Regions from separate parts of the Homo sapiens genome. Here all the other regions are reported to be linked to region 3. Evidence: microRNA targets listed by miRTarBase, many of them from high-throughput screens and not tested one by one. Region 3 holds a microRNA gene; each other region holds the end of a gene's coding sequence.

What was found. The annotated mature microRNA hsa-miR-6721-5p reads UGGGCAGGGGCUUAUUGUAGGAG and lies in region 3 at 3,099-3,121, shown strand. An mRNA with a match to its seed (bases 2 to 7 or 8) in the 3' UTR can be bound and repressed. Matches are read on the target gene's strand: a 7mer-m8 pairs with bases 2 to 8, a 7mer-A1 pairs with bases 2 to 7 and ends in A, and an 8mer does both.
Region 1: miRTarBase lists TXLNA as a target of hsa-miR-6721-5p. Seed matches in the 3' UTR shown: 7mer-m8 at 1,031-1,037, 7mer-m8 at 1,291-1,297, 7mer-m8 at 1,795-1,801 and 7mer-m8 at 2,355-2,361.
Region 2: the mRNA of SIX5 is a reported target of hsa-miR-6721-5p. Seed matches in the 3' UTR shown: 7mer-m8 at 1,090-1,096 and 7mer-m8 at 1,129-1,135.

What each region holds. Positions count from the first base shown.
Region 1 is chr1:32,194,540-32,199,611 of GRCh38, forward strand. It overlaps TXLNA (taxilin alpha), which reads left to right. Exons shown (of 11, transcript NM_175852.4): 11 at 363-3,746. The coding sequence ends at 656. It also overlaps a transcript of CCDC28B not described here. Among named protein-coding and RNA genes, the nearest start is that of CCDC28B, 3.5 kb to the right of the region's middle. RefSeq lists an enhancer at 4,715-5,072.
Region 2 is chr19:45,761,239-45,766,310 of GRCh38, reverse strand. SIX5 (SIX homeobox 5) reads left to right here. Exons shown (of 3, transcript NM_175875.5): 3 at 200-1,526. The coding sequence ends at 810. It overlaps MEIOSIN (meiosis initiator), which reads right to left. Exons shown (of 15, transcript NM_001310124.2): 12 at 4,444-4,632; 13 at 4,128-4,372; 14 at 2,884-2,973; 15 at 1,770-2,340. The coding sequence ends at 2,193. Among named protein-coding and RNA genes, the nearest start is that of DM1-AS, 4.0 kb to the left of the region's middle. RefSeq lists an enhancer at 2,215-2,769.
Region 3 is chr6:32,168,133-32,173,204 of GRCh38, reverse strand. MIR6721 (microRNA 6721) reads left to right here and starts at 3,089; the gene lies at 3,089-3,175. It overlaps EGFL8 (EGF like domain multiple 8), which reads right to left. Exons shown (of 9, transcript NM_030652.4): 9 at 4,924-5,072. It overlaps AGPAT1 (1-acylglycerol-3-phosphate O-acyltransferase 1), which reads left to right. Exons shown (of 7, transcript NM_006411.4): 2 at 1,700-1,908; 3 at 2,135-2,268; 4 at 2,605-2,780; 5 at 2,945-3,040; 6 at 3,167-3,239; 7 at 3,757-4,993. The coding sequence starts at 1,709. The coding sequence ends at 3,929. PPT2-EGFL8 (PPT2-EGFL8 readthrough (NMD candidate)) reads right to left here. Exons shown (of 16, transcript NR_037861.1): 16 at 4,920-5,072. RefSeq lists an enhancer at 2,707-3,906.

The DNA of each region.
Region 1 (5,072 bases), not on the chromosome of region 3:
TTTTTGTCTTTTTTGCTGCTGAATGTTTTTAGGTACGTTGTTCATTGAACCTTCTCTTGAGCTCTGAGGATGGTATTAGTAGTCCTGTTTTATAGATGAGACAGGCTCAAAAGTCAAGTCCTTTGCCAAGGTCACGTGGTAGATAAATGGAGGAATACGTTATCTCCAAGCCGTGCCCCTTTTCTGCACCATGCTGCCCCACCTGACAGCCTAGTCATGGCTTCAACTAGGACTGTTTCCTAGAGGGGGCCAGCTTTGGACTCGGTCTGCTCTCAGCCTTGTTAAAGTGTTTGCCGCCAAGTGGTGATGGTAAGTGGGAGGTTGATGGGGCACGGCACTGAAGGTCTCATTTCTTTCCCTAGAAAACAGTCCGGGATAAAGAACTGGAGGGCCTGCAGGTAAAAATCCAACGGCTGGAGAAGCTGTGCCGGGCACTGCAGACAGAGCGCAATGACCTGAACAAGAGGGTACAGGACCTGAGTGCTGGTGGCCAGGGCTCCCTCACTGACAGTGGCCCTGAGAGGAGGCCAGAGGGGCCTGGGGCTCAAGCACCCAGCTCCCCCAGGGTCACAGAAGCGCCTTGCTACCCAGGAGCACCGAGCACAGAAGCATCAGGCCAGACTGGGCCTCAAGAGCCCACCTCCGCCAGGGCCTAGAGAGCCTGGTGTTGGGTCATGCTGGGAAGGGAGCGGCAGCCCAGCCAGGCCTGGCCCATAAAAGGCTCCCATGCTGAGCAGCCCATTGCTGAAGCCAGGATGTTCTGACCTGGCTGGCATCTGGCACTTGCAATTTTGGATTTTGTGGGTCAGTTTTACGTACATAGGGCATTTTGCAAGGCCTTGCAAATGCATTTATACCTGTAAGTGTACAGTGGGCTTGCATTGGGGATGGGGGTGTGTACAGATGAAGTCAGTGGCTTGTCTGTGAGCTGAAGAGTCTTGAGAGGGGCTGTCATCTGTAGCTGCCATCACAGTGAGTTGGCAGAAGTGACTTGAGCATTTCTCTGTCTGATTTGAGGCTCAGACCCCTCCCTGCCCTTCAGAGCTCAAGACAAGTAATACACCCAGGTCTTGACTGCATTTGTCTTGTGAGCAGGGCTTGCTTGGTCAGCTCAGGCCCTCCTAGCTGCTCTGGAGGCTCCTTTGATTCTCTAGACCTGGAAAAGGTGTCCCTAGGCAGAGCCCTGGCAGGGCGCTCAGAGCTGGGGATTTCCTGCCTGGAACAAGGGACCTGGAGAATGTTTTTGCGTGGGATGATGTGCTGGTCAGGAGCCCCTTGGGCATCGCTTCCCCTGCCCTTTGGTAGTGCCAGGACCAGGCCAATGATGCTTCTCAGTAGCCTTATCATTCACAGGTGCCTCTCTAGCCTGCACAAATGATTGACAAGAGATCACCCAAAGGATTATTTCTGAAGGTGTTTTTTTCTTTATTTCTTTTTCTTTTTTTTTTTTTTTCTTTTTCTTTTTTTTTTGCACATGACAGTGTTTGTATTGAGGACCTTCCAAGGAAGAGGGATGCTGTAGCAGTGGTGCCTGGGTGCCTGGCCTCCAGTGTCCCACCTCCTTCACCACCCCACTTGGCTCCTTTGCCATCTTGATGCTGAGGTTTCCTGTTTGGTGAGATCAGGTTGTTTGTGGTAAAAGAAAGGAAAGGGCTTCTGATGGCTTTGCCACAAGCTTACCTGTGGGTTTCAGTCCTGAGAGGCCACCACCAGTTCCCATCAGCACTGTCTCCATGCAGCAGTTGCTGGGTCCCATGTCCAGCTGCCTCTTTGGCTTCATGGGTTTTTCTGCTTCCTGCCCCCACCCCCACATGTGCAATCCTCAAGATTTGTCCTGATTCTATTTCCTGGCACCTCCCTGCCTGTCCTTGGGGATTCTACTTCTTCCTGTGTGGGAGCCCATAGCTGTTGTCTAACAGGTAAGAAATGAAATTGAACTATTGACTGGGCCCCAGAAATCCATAAAATGGCTGCAGACAGTTGTTTCTGTGTCCTGTTCTACCCCCACTCCAGTACATAACTACTATGTACTGTGTAGAGCCATTCTATATGCTGAATGTTCTGCTGTTGCAAACTTGCCAGGGTATTAGCCAGTGTTTGTGCCAAGCAGTTTTCTGGGACAACAGAATGACTCAGACCAAGATGGATAGGATGGTTAGGGCTTTGCTTCTTGCTGTTTTTCTTTGAAGCTAGTTCATTGTCCTGCAGGTCCCTTCATCTTCCATACCTAGCCCACTCTTTTAGCCCTTACCTTAAATCTCTCAGATAAGTTGGTTCACAAAGAATGTTAAGTACTGAATCATGTGTGACTGAGACCAGAGATGGCAAATGAATGGCACACCATTTCTCCTTCTCCTGCCCCAGGGCAGGTACCACTGATCTGCATCAGAGTTGCCTGCTATTCTCTGGTGTATCCTTCACATCTAGGTGCCCTCAAGCAGCTGTGTGAGTGTTGAGATCTCTGCCATCTCTGGCTGAGATACTGCTGTCCTGTGAAGTGTTTCCCATGACCTTTTTCTTCCCCTTTGAATCCCTCTGTCTGGAGTAGTCCTTGCCTCTTCCTGCTCCAGTAGGGCCTTTTCCCTACCCCAGCCCCTGTGCCAGGCTAAGCTGGTACAAGAGCTGCCAACCTCACAGAGTGTTTGCTAGGCGAGAGAGGTGCAGGGAAGAGGCAGAGGTATGCACCTTCCCCCTTGAAGAGAGGGGAAAGGCCTACAGTGGCCCACATAATTGCCTGACTCACACTTCAGCTACCTCTTAATGCCTGTGGAGGGACTGGAGCTGCTGGATCCCAGTGTGGTGGTGTAGGAGGCCACAGTGAGCAGGTGGCCCCAGCTGGGTTTCCCAGGTCAGGAATGTGGGCCCCAGGCAAGGTGCAGCCTTTGCTCACAGCTCCATCCATGTCTAGACCTTCAGGCCAGTCTGCAGATGAGGTTCCCTACCTTTTTCTTCTCTTCATTGACCAAATCAACCAATCACTACAGCTGCTCTGCTTCTGCTTTCCAAAGTAGCCCAGGTCCTGGGCCAGATGCAGGGGAGGTGCCTATCCATGAGTGAAGGCCAGTGTCTTCCTCACCTGGGTGGGTCCCACACTTGTGACCTCAGTTTTAGGACCAAGATCTGTGTTGGTTTCTTAGATTGCTAGCTTTTCCTCCAGGGGACCACAGCAGGTGAAGCTCAAGAGCGCATGGCTCTGCTAATAGTAAATTGTTTTCAGGGCCTTGTCCAGCTGAGAGCTTCATGTCCACCAGATTCTGAGAGGTGTCAGCAGCACTTTTTTTTTTTATTTGTTGTTTGTTTTCCATGAGGTTATCGGACCATGGGCTGAGCTCAGGCACTTTCTGTAGGAGACTGTTATTTCTGTAAAGATGGTTATTTAACCCTCCTCCACCCCATCACGGTGGCCCTGAGGGCTGACCCGGAGGCCAGTGGAGCTGCCTGGTGTCCACGGGGGAGGGCCAAGGCCTGCTGAGCTGATTCTCCAGCTGCTGCCCCAGCCTTTCCGCCTTGCACAGCACAGAGGTGGTCACCCCAGGGACAGCCAGGCACCTGCTCCTCTTGCCCTTCCTGGGGGAAGGGAGCTGCCTTCTGTCCCTGTAACTGCTTTCCTTATGGCCCAGCCCGGCCACTCAGACTTGTTTGAAGCTGCACTGGCAGCTTTTTTGTCTCCTTTGGGTATTCACAACAGCCAGGGACTTGATTTTGATGTATTTTAAACCACATTAAATAAAGAGTCTGTTGCCTTACTTGTTTCTCTCCTGACCTGTGTATTCCTTTGTTTCTGGATCTGATCCATTCAGCCCCTTCCATCATCACTGACTTGTTCAGGTCTGCTGCAGAGCGCCCATGGTGGTTCCCTGGTATCTTACATATTCCACAGTGTCTTTGAGCAGTCGCCACAGCCTCAGGATGCTGGCATATTCACTTGAGCTGCCTGAGTGGAGCCCTTGGCAAAGTTGGCAAGACCCTTGCCTCAGAGAGGATCACACACACACAAAAAAGTTTTCCCTGACCTGGGGGCTCACAGGCTAGTGAAGGGAAAAGGTACTTTTAGCTATAGACAGGTCAATGGTGCTGAGAGCAGAGAGGAGGCCCCTGCCCCCTTCAGCAAGGTGAGGGGGTGATACCTGGAATGGCCTTCTGAACCACAGGGCAGGTAGAAGATGAACGTCATTTAGTGATTAAATGGTACAGCTGGGAAGCAGGTCCATGGGACTGGGAGAGGGGGTGAGGCTGGGCCCAGAGTCTGGGTACCAGGTTAAGGAATGTGGGCTAGATCCAGAGGGCAGGGGGGGCAACTGAAGGTGTTTCAATAGGAAATTGATAGGCTCCAGCAGTAAGGCAAAAGGCATGGAGCCAGGCATAGGCCATTTGAGGCCCAGGTTAAGAGGGGTGGACACTCATCACTGCTATTTGGGTCTGAGCTGTGGGTAGGCTCCTATAGCCCTGGCCTGCCCAAGGGAATTCACAGGGGCCTCTAATTGTATGCATTCCTTAAGGAGAGCACATTCTCTGTTCAGTTTTTACACCCCCCATTTACCCACCTCAAGCATGGGACTCCTATATGGGAGACATGCTGCTGGTGGCCTCACCCAGCACCCTGTTCTCTCTGGGTCCTGGGTTGGTCAGGCACAAAGGATGATATGTGCTGAATGCCCAGGAAATGGCAGAGACAACCCACCTGCCCTTCCCTCCAGGCCTCCACAAATAGATGTGCCCACAATGACTGTGACAGTCCCAGCAGAGCCTCTGACCCTTCTAGCTGGGTCCTGATACATGTTTTCCATGCTGGCCATGTTATTTCTAGTCGCAGATCCTCTGGAGGGTGTGGGGGGGGTGCCGCCCCAACTCTTGGAGATTCCAAGCAAAGCAGCTCTGAGAATAATGAGGTTTCTGACCCCCCAGTGAAGCAGCTGAGGATGGGAACCACAGGGGTGCTCCCTCTGTCAGCAGCATTACCACTGTCTACTCTAGCAGCTCCGGTGGGGAAGGAGAGGGATTTCTGTTGTCCCCAGTCTGGGCCCCTGGTTATTGAAAAAGTTCGGAATTACTCTTTACCCTTGTGGAGTGTT
Region 2 (5,072 bases), not on the chromosome of region 3:
GGGAGGGGTGCAGTCATCTCGGAGAGGGAGGGGCTGTCCCTGGGCTCCTGGAGGGCATCTCATCCCTGGCAAGTCCCAGTGCCCCAAGGCCCACCACAAGGCTCCCTCCGCCCGCCCTCCAGCTGCACAGTCTCCACTTCTCTCTGGCTTGGCCTGCTCTCCTGGCTCTCACCTGCGCTCGGTCCCTCTCTCCCCACAGGAAACTTCCTCCTGGCCAACCCTGTGTCTGGCAGCCCCATCGTGACGGGTGTGGCCCTGCAGCAGGGCAAGATCATCCTCACCGCCACCTTCCCCACCAGCATGCTCGTCTCCCAGGTCCTGCCGCCAGCCCCCGGCCTGGCCCTGCCACTGAAGCCAGAGACGGCCATCTCCGTGCCTGAGGGAGGCCTCCCGGTGGCCCCCAGCCCTGCTCTCCCAGAGGCTCACGCCCTAGGCACCCTTTCTGCACAGCAGCCACCCCCCGCCGCTGCCACCACCTCCAGCACCAGCCTGCCCTTCTCCCCTGACTCCCCTGGCCTCCTGCCCAACTTCCCGGCGCCCCCACCAGAGGGGCTGATGTTGTCACCCGCGGCCGTGCCTGTCTGGTCAGCAGGGCTGGAACTAAGCGCAGGAACAGAGGGGCTGCTGGAAGCGGAAAAGGGGCTGGGGACACAGGCCCCCCACACCGTGCTGAGGCTGCCAGACCCCGACCCTGAGGGGCTGCTCCTGGGGGCCACCGCAGGGGGTGAGGTTGACGAGGGGTTGGAAGCTGAGGCCAAGGTTCTGACCCAGCTCCAGTCGGTGCCTGTGGAGGAGCCCTTGGAACTGTGACCCAGTGTGGCCCCGTGGCCTCTCCCGACATTGGTGCTGAAGACGCAGGGACAGGAATGGGAGGGGGGAGCCCCAGAAATGCGGTTGCTGAAGACCCCAGTCACCACATCCTTCTGCCTGGGTGGCCTCTCCAAGCCCTGGTGGTGCTGGGGGTTGTATCCCCGGCCACCTCCTGTCCAGGTCTCCATCCCCCTTTGGATGGGAGGCCTCTCTGTTACAGCCCTCCCCATGCTGTGCCCTGCCATATACGTGGGGGACTCAGGGTCCTGACTCAGGGGCCCTGCCCCCTCCACTTGGTACTAGCTGTAAGCGGAACACCCTGCCCCAGGGCCGGACTTCCAGCCCCCAGAGCCCTCTCCCTGTCACTCCCTGAAACACTATTAATAGCTCTGCCGATAGCTGGTGTTGTCACAACTGCCTGGAATCCGAAGGTGGAGGACAGGCAGCCCCGCGCCCCTGAGACTGGAGACCCTCCCCAGTGTGGCATTTCCTGCCAGGGGCGGGGGGTGGGGCAGCTGTGGGGAGACGGGGGTCTTCCTTCACCAGCTCCCCTCGACTCAAGCCCTTGTCCTCATTATCCGGCCCAGACCAAAGATTCCCTCATCCCTGGGGGCAGCCCTGCCGCTGTGTCTCCTTTGTATCCTAAATCTTTATTTTTCTAGGACATGTTATGCCTCCATTTTCAATTAAAATAAAGTTATCGGATTACACCACCACCAGGGGTCTGGGGTGCCTTCCAGTGTCTGTCCAAAGCAGCGCTGAACACAGAGCCCACCTCGAGACCTGGCCTTCCCATTGCTGCCTCCCGAGGGGAAGAGGGGTTTGCATTCAGATGCACAGAGTGGCTGGGGAGGGGGTGGCACTGAGGCCTCTTGCAAGCCACAGGCCTCCAGATGAGGGTGGACGGAGCACCCCAGTGGGGCAGCAGGGGGACGCAGGAGGGCCTGCCCTTGTCTCTCTTGCTGGTAACAAAGGTTCCACTTGCTTTATTTTATTTAAAACAATAAATAGTCTAAAAATAGAACAGGAGAGGGAGGAGTAGGGTGAGGTGAGCATGAACAGGGTTGCAACCGAGTGGCTCTGGGGTGGGGAAGGGAAGGGGAGAGGGGTGGGTAAACTTCACCTTCCGACACCCCGCATTTCATTTTGGGTTTCCTTCCTAAGCCTGGGGGAGAATCAAGGCAGCTGTGGGTGACTCTGGTGCTCCAGGCAAATGTGCCCAGCGGTTGGGGCTAATCAGTGCCCCCCTCCCCAGTCCCATGGGACCTGCATTCTCAGGGGCTGGAGGCCCAGGAGGGACAAGTTCATCGATGGGTCCTGGCTTCCAGCAAGAGCCGCGGTTGCCATGAGGGGTGAGGGGAGCGAGGCGAGGGGCCGCCCTCTCACTGGAGGTGCGGGGGCAGCGGCAAGGCCTTCTCGGCCAGCAGCTGGTAGAAGGGCTTTGGCGTCTCCCAGTCCTCAGCCTCGCTGCTGGAGCCGTCCTGCTTCACGATGCGGTTGTGCTGGCGGCTGAACCTGCGAGCCTTGGTGCTGGGGAGACGGTGGCAGGATGGCCTGGCTTCCTCACTCGCCTCCCGGGCATCCCTGTACCACTCCCAATCCTGTGTCCCCGCAGGGGCCTGGGCCACCGTTTTAGCCTCTATTGGGCGAGCCTTGGGTCCACCAAGTCCCAGTCAGTAAGATGGGACTCGGCCAAGGGCTCTGGGATGTGTTCAAAGTCAGGAGCCAGGGCAGGTGGCAGCTCCTTGAAGGTGGAGGGGACAGGATTCGGGGGAGTCGAGGTGGCCAAGCGACAGGAAAATCAGACCACGCCCCGAGAAAGTCGTGTGGCAGAGACAGCAAAAGAATTGAGGCAGGGGTCCATGTCTGGGCTCAGCTGTTCCCCAGCTTAGCTGTGGTGGGGTACCCCTACACCTGTGTCACCCCCAAGGGTTTCATAAGAAGGGGCAACACGCAAATTCCTCGGCCCAGTCTCCCATGCCATGACACCCAAGGCTCCAGAGACAGAGCAGGGTTCCGGGGTAGGGAGGCTCTTCCACCCCCCACCCACACCTCGGGGCCGGAGCCTCTCACCAGTATGGCCTCCGCTCCTGCTGGGTCATCACCCGCCACAGCTGGGCCAGCTCCTTGGTGGCAGCTGTGGAAGCGGTTCCAGGGCAGGATCTGGGACAGGAAGGAGGAGGAGGTAAGGAGAGGTCTGCAGGACACCCTGACTGAGAACTCAGACCCTTCCTAGCCTTGTGGGTCTACAAGGCCTCCAAGACCACCCTCTGGAGCTGAGGAGGCAGAGGGAGCTGGACTCAGCGGCTGTTCACAAGGGGGCACCTGGTGTCCCAGGAGAGTGCAGGGGACCTGTGGGCACCGCTCCTGGCCCCCACATCTGGATCTTCCTGTAAAGGAACTAGCTGTTTTCCACTGTGGCTTGGGGGGGGCCTCCCCATCCCCTGGCTCCAGGCCTGGCAGTGACTGGTTCAGGGTTGGCACCGGATCTACCAAAGTCAGTCCCAAGGACTTTGCTTAAAACCTTAGAGACCTCTCCTCCTCCCGGGGTCGCTTGGGTGGGGGACAGGACCCGAGCCTGTGCCTCCTGGGGTGACCCCACCTGCCAGAGAATGAAGCCAGCCCGGAAGACAGAGGAACTGGGTGAAAAGGACAAAGATTCCAGACAGCCTGTGTGAGCCCTAAAACCAGCTATGTCTCAAGGCAGTCTATACCCGCCCTTGTTTTCTAGGTTATATAAGCCAATTCATTTTCTTTTCTTGCTGGGCCTGATGGCTCACACCTGTAATCCCAGCAATTTGAGAGGCCGAGGCAGGCAGATCACTTGAGGTGAGGCATTCGAGACCAGCCTGGCCAACATGGTGAAACCCTGTCTCTACTAAAAATACAAAAATTAGCTGATGGCGCGCCTGTTATCCCAGCTACTCAGGAGGCTGAGGCAGGAGAATCTGAGAGGCAGAGGTTGCAGTGATTTGAGCCCGGGAGGCAGACATTGCAGTGAGCTGTGATTGTGCCACTGCACTACAGCCTGGGCAATAGAGTGAGACTCTGTCTCAAAAAACAAAACAAAACAAAAAAAACTCCTTTTTTTCTGAAGTCTAAAGCCTGAATTGGGTTTCAGCGCTGACAATGGATGGACCCTGTCCAATACAATGGGGCCGGGTTCAGTTCTGGGGAAGAACTGTGGTCCACGAAGGGTTTGTGGGGTCTCGGAGGGGGAAAAAGTGTCAGACAGTTGTGAGGAGCGGCATGGCCAGGCTGCGGGCAGAGAACGAAGCCAGGGCCTTCCCCAGGGCCAAAGACGACCCCCTACCCACCGGATGTACTGCTTCCGGTTCATCCTGCAGAACATGATGAAGCCGTTGACACACTTCTTCTTCATCTGGGGTGGGCAGGGGCCTTTCTTCTTCTCCTTGGGCTTCACAGGGGCCCTGGCTACTTGGCCCTTCGTGGCCTTTTTCTCAGCTGCCAGCAGGGGTGAGGCCAGCCGGGTGGGGGTCCATGTGGTGTCTTCGTCCTCTTCGCTGGAGCCCGGCGTGCCCACAGGGTTGGCCTGCATATCCTGGGGGAGGGAGAGGGTGGTGAGAGAGGAAGGAGGCCCTGCTGGCCCTGGCATGCGGCCGTGTCTCTCACCTCTCGCTGCTTCCACAGGGGCTCCGAGTCGCTGTCCTCCGAGCTGGAGCTGGAGCTGGAGCTGGAGCTGGAGCTGGATGGCGCCTTGCTGTTCCCGCTCAGCGAGAGGTAGCAGTGGTCCAGCGAGACTGAGGACCGGTGCAGGCTGTGGGACTCAGGAGGGTCTTTGGGGGCCTTGGAGGCTGTGTCCTGGGGCATGATGAGGGAGAAAGATGGGAGGGGAGACAAGTGGTGCCCCTTCATCCCCCCAGTACTGCTTTTCTAGGACATAACATGAGCATTAGCAGCAGCTCAGATTGGCAGGGTGTGGTGGCTTACGCCTGTAACCCCAACACTCTGGGAGGCTGAGGCAGGAGGACTGCTTGAGGCCAGGAGTTACAGACCAGCCTGGGCAACATAGAGAGACCTTGTTCTACAAAAAAAAAAAAAAAAAAAAAAAAAAAATAGGCCAGGCGCAGTGGCTCATGCCTGTAATCTCAGCACTTTCGGAGGCTGAGGCAGGAGGATCACCTGAGGTCAGGAGTTCAAAACCAGCCTGGCCAACATGGCGAAACTCTGTCTAAAAATACTAAAAAATTAGCCAGGTATGTTGGTGGGCGCCTGTAGTCCCAGCTACTCTGGAGGCTGAG
Region 3 (5,072 bases):
ACCCTGCCCCCAACACTGGGGCAGAGTGGAGGAAGGAGGAAGAACCTAGAACACAGGTTCTGTGTTCCTGCCTCTCTTCCTCTTGAGCCCTTTCCTCTCCCAGGGCAAGTGCTGTTAGGTCACCTTTACTCCATTCCCTCCTTTTTTCACTTGGTGAGGCCTCACACACTGTACCTGCCCACGCAAAGTGTCACTAGAAGGAAGGGAAAGGGTAGTAGGATTCGTTTGCCTGTCTGGAGGTAGGATTGGTCTTTGTAGCTATTCCAGGTATGTCCATAAGTTTACCTAGGAATAGGGGAGCTGCCTGGGTGGAGAGGGATTTTTCTAGTTATGCATTTACATTCTTTTATCTGTCACTGGGTGTAATTATAAATTTGTGTCTATGTGTGAACATGTTAGTCTTTGTATGACTGTGTGTCTGTTGGCATTAGTGACACGAACTTTTAATCTTGCCATTTGGCCCTTGGGTATATGGCTGTGAGTGTTCTGTCACAATCACCATATATGCTGTGTGCTGTGTTCGTATATATATATGCAATACATACCAGTGTCAGCGTAATGGAGTGGTTAGGAACACAGGCGGCTTAGATTTAACCTAGAAACTGCTGTTTAGGAGCTGTATGACCTCAGGTAAGTTATTTAGCCTCCCTGGGCCTATTTCCTATAAAATGTAAATAGTAATAGTACTTTCTAGACTATCATATGCATCATTTTAAGAGTTTAACTTAATGTATAGACCAGTACTGTTCTACAGAAATATAATGCAAGCCACAATGTAATTTTTTTATGGTAGCCACATTTTTACAAGGCAAAAAGAGTGAAATTAATTTTAGTAATATATTTTCTTGAATCTGATAACATCCAAAAGATTATAATTTCTTTTTTTTTTTTTGGAAATGGAGTCTCACTCCATTGCCCAGGCTAGAGTGCAGTGGCGTGATCTTGGCTCACTGCAACCTCCGCCTCCCGGATTCAAGCGATTCTCCTGCCTCAGCCTCCCGAGTAGCTGGGATTAAAGGCATGCGCCAACAGGCCCGGCTAATTTTTGTATTTTTAGTAGAGACGGGGTTTCACCATGTTGGTCAGGCTGGTCCTGAACTCCTGACCTCGTGATCTGCCCACCTCGGCTTCCCAAAGTGCTGGGATTACAGGCGTGAGCCACTGCGCCCGGCCCAAGATTATAATTTCAAAATGTAGTCAGCATAAAAGATTAGTAATGGATATCTCACATTTTGTTTTTTATTCAGTCTTTGAAATCTGATGTGTATTTTACATTTCCAGCACATCTCAGTTCAGACTAGCTGCATTTCAAGTAGCCACATGTAGGTGGTGGCTACTTTCTCGGACAGCACAAGTATAGACCATTATAAGACCCTTACCAGCTACAAGTGTTAGCTATTATTCTTGTTGTCATTTATTATCAGGTATCTGTGAATTGTAGATGTCTGTGTCTTGTGTCTCTTGTCTGAATATATCCGGAGCCTTTGGGAAGAGTGGTGGGAGAGCAGTCCTGAGCTCTTTCTCCACCACCCTCATCCTAGAGAGCCTTCCTGGGAAGGTTTCAATGAGACCCCTGCCCCAGTTTGTGTCTCAGGCCCTTGTCCTCATAGCACCAGCCCCCAGCCCTGCCTTCTGTGCCTTGCCTACCCCACTCTCCTCCAGAAACCAGGCTGATTGTCCCTTGCCCCATCCCCTGCAGGTGGCCAGAATGGATTTGTGGCCAGGGGCATGGATGCTGCTGCTGCTGCTCTTCCTGCTGCTGCTCTTCCTGCTGCCCACCCTGTGGTTCTGCAGCCCCAGTGCCAAGTACTTCTTCAAGATGGCCTTCTACAATGGCTGGATCCTCTTCCTGGCTGTGCTCGCCATCCCTGTGTGTGCCGTGCGAGGACGCAACGTCGAGAACATGAAGTGAGGGGCAAGGGGTCTTGGGCAATGAGGGAACCTAAGGGTACAAAGTGAGTAGTGGATTGGGGGAAGGGGGCATGGTGTGTGTAGAAAAGACTGAGAGAGACCAGAGACAGGGAATGGGGAGAGGACTGCAAAGGTGGTCAGAAAGACAGTAAGGTGGGGGGAGCTGAGGCATGCAGATGGACATCAATGGATCCCACTGGGACCCCTTGCCATGACCCCACAGGATCTTGCGTCTAATGCTGCTCCACATCAAATACCTGTACGGGATCCGAGTGGAGGTGCGAGGGGCTCACCACTTCCCTCCCTCGCAGCCCTATGTTGTTGTCTCCAACCACCAGAGCTCTCTCGATCTGCTTGGTGAGACCCCACCACAGGGCACACCTCCCCCAGCCATGCCTCCCCTCCTGAAACCTTCCCTAGAATATCTTCTCCTAGAGATCCTCAATTCCCCTTCCTCTGGGACATTGCCCCCTTGCCTCCCACTCAGGCCTTCATTCCCTGGGTAGAACTGCCCTCATAAGCAGGTTACATATACTTTTGGTCACCCTTTCCTTCACTTGGGGCCCCCCTCCCTGCCTAGTCTCCTCCTTCACCTCCAGTCCCTACCAGAGGGTGATGAGCTGGGTGAGGTGGGTTGCCTTCTGTGACACTCTGCCTCCACCCCGATCCTCACCCACTCCCACCCTGCCCAAGGGATGATGGAGGTACTGCCAGGCCGCTGTGTGCCCATTGCCAAGCGCGAGCTACTGTGGGCTGGCTCTGCCGGGCTGGCCTGCTGGCTGGCAGGAGTCATCTTCATCGACCGGAAGCGCACGGGGGATGCCATCAGTGTCATGTCTGAGGTCGCCCAGACCCTGCTCACCCAGGACGTGAGTCATCCTGGGGAAATGGGGGATTGGAGGGATACAGAGTAGAACAGTTGTAAATAAACTGATATGCAGGGCCAGTGGGCCTCAAAGGTCCCATTATAACATCACACCTATTCTGACTCCTCCATATGTATTTGTCTTCTTTGACCCTCTTTCTCCCCCAGGTGAGGGTCTGGGTGTTTCCTGAGGGAACGAGAAACCACAATGGCTCCATGCTGCCCTTCAAACGTGGCGCCTTCCATCTTGCAGTGCAGGCCCAGGTGACTACTGCTCTTCGTTCTGCTACTCAGCTGCCAACCCCCACCATTCCCTCATCTCTGGGCAGGGGCTTATTGTAGGAGTCTCTGAAGAGAGCTGTGGACTGACCTGCTTTAACCCTTCCCCAGGTTCCCATTGTCCCCATAGTCATGTCCTCCTACCAAGACTTCTACTGCAAGAAGGAGCGTCGCTTCACCTCGGGTGAGGGCTTTGAGCAGTTCTGGGGTAGGGTGTGTCCGGAGAGGCTGGGAGGACATCCCTGTGAGGCAGGGGGATCATTCAGTGTCAGAGCCATGAGATGTCTACACAGTCATCTAGTCTAACCCCACATCAGCCAATAAGTCTTTACTAAGCACCCACCATACCCTGCCAGATGGGTAGCACTTGGTCCCACCAAGAGAGGCTGTTACTAATCTTAACAGGAAAGATAAGGCCTGTGTGCACAAAGCTGTAATGAATAACACTCATTCAGCAGTAAATGCCAAACCCAGAGGAGGGGGGCTGGAGGGGTGCTGAGGAGATGTCTGAACTGGGGATTGGAGAAGGCTTTGTATAGGAGAAGGGCCTCAGAAGTGGCAGCTGGCAAGCCCAGGGATGGTTGTCCAGGGTTGGGGGAAGAGAACTGAAAGGTTGAGGAAGAGTATCACTCGGAAGCTGGGCCCCACCTGTGGGCAAAGACCTGGGTGGACAGGCCATGATGGTGCTCCCCTTGCCCCAGGACAATGTCAGGTGCGGGTGCTGCCCCCAGTGCCCACGGAAGGGCTGACACCAGATGACGTCCCAGCTCTGGCTGACAGAGTCCGGCACTCCATGCTCACTGTTTTCCGGGAAATCTCCACTGATGGCCGGGGTGGTGGTGACTATCTGAAGAAGCCTGGGGGCGGTGGGTGAACCCTGGCTCTGAGCTCTCCTCCCATCTGTCCCCATCTTCCTCCCCACACCTACCCACCCAGTGGGCCCTGAAGCAGGGCCAAACCCTCTTCCTTGTCTCCCCTCTCCCCACTTATTCTCCTCTTTGGAATCTTCAACTTCTGAAGTGAATGTGGATACAGCGCCACTCCTGCCCCCTCTTGGCCCCATCCATGGACTCTTGCCTCGGTGCAGTCTCCACTCTTGACCCCCACCTCCTACTGTCTTGTCTGTGGGACAGTTGCCTCCCCCTCATCTCCAGTGACTCAGCCTACACAAGGGAGGGGAACATTCCATCCCCAGTGGAGTCTCTTCCTATGTGGTCTTCTCTACCCCTCTACCCCACATTGGCCAGTGGACTCATCCATTCTTTGGAACAAATCCCCCCCACTCCAAAGTCCATGGATTCAATGGACTCATCCATTTGTGAGGAGGACTTCTCGCCCTCTGGCTGGAAGCTGATACCTGAAGCACTCCCAGGCTCATCATGGGAGCTTTCCTCAGCACCTTCACCTTCCCTCCCAGTGTAGCCTCCTGTCAGTGGGGGCTGGACCCTTCTAATTCAGAGGTCTCATGCCTGCCCTTGCCCAGATGCCCAGGGTCGTGCACTCTCTGGGATACCAGTTCAGTCTCCACATTTCTGGTTTTCTGTCCCCATAGTACAGTTCTTCAGTGGACATGACCCCACCCAGCCCCCTGCAGCCCTGCTGCACCATCTCACCAGACACAAGGGGAAGAAGCAGACATCAGGTGCTGCACTCACTTCTGCCCCCTGGGGAGTTGGGGAAAGGAACGAACCCTGGCTGGAGGGGATAGGAGGGCTTTTAATTTATTTCTTTTTCTGTTGAGGCTTCCCCCTCTCTGAGCCAGTTTTCATTTCTTCCTGGTGGCATTAGCCACTCCCTGCCTCTCACTCCAGACCTGTTCCCACAACTGGGGAGGTAGGCTGGGAGCAAAAGGAGAGGGTGGGACCCAGTTTTGCGTGGTTGGTTTTTATTAATTATCTGGATAACAGCAAAAAAACTGAAAATAAAGAGAGAGAGAGATCTGGGTGTTGGTGGTTGCATTTGTTAAGGAATTGAAGAAGCAGTTCTTGCCCAGGCAACCTGCCCCCAGCCAGAAGAC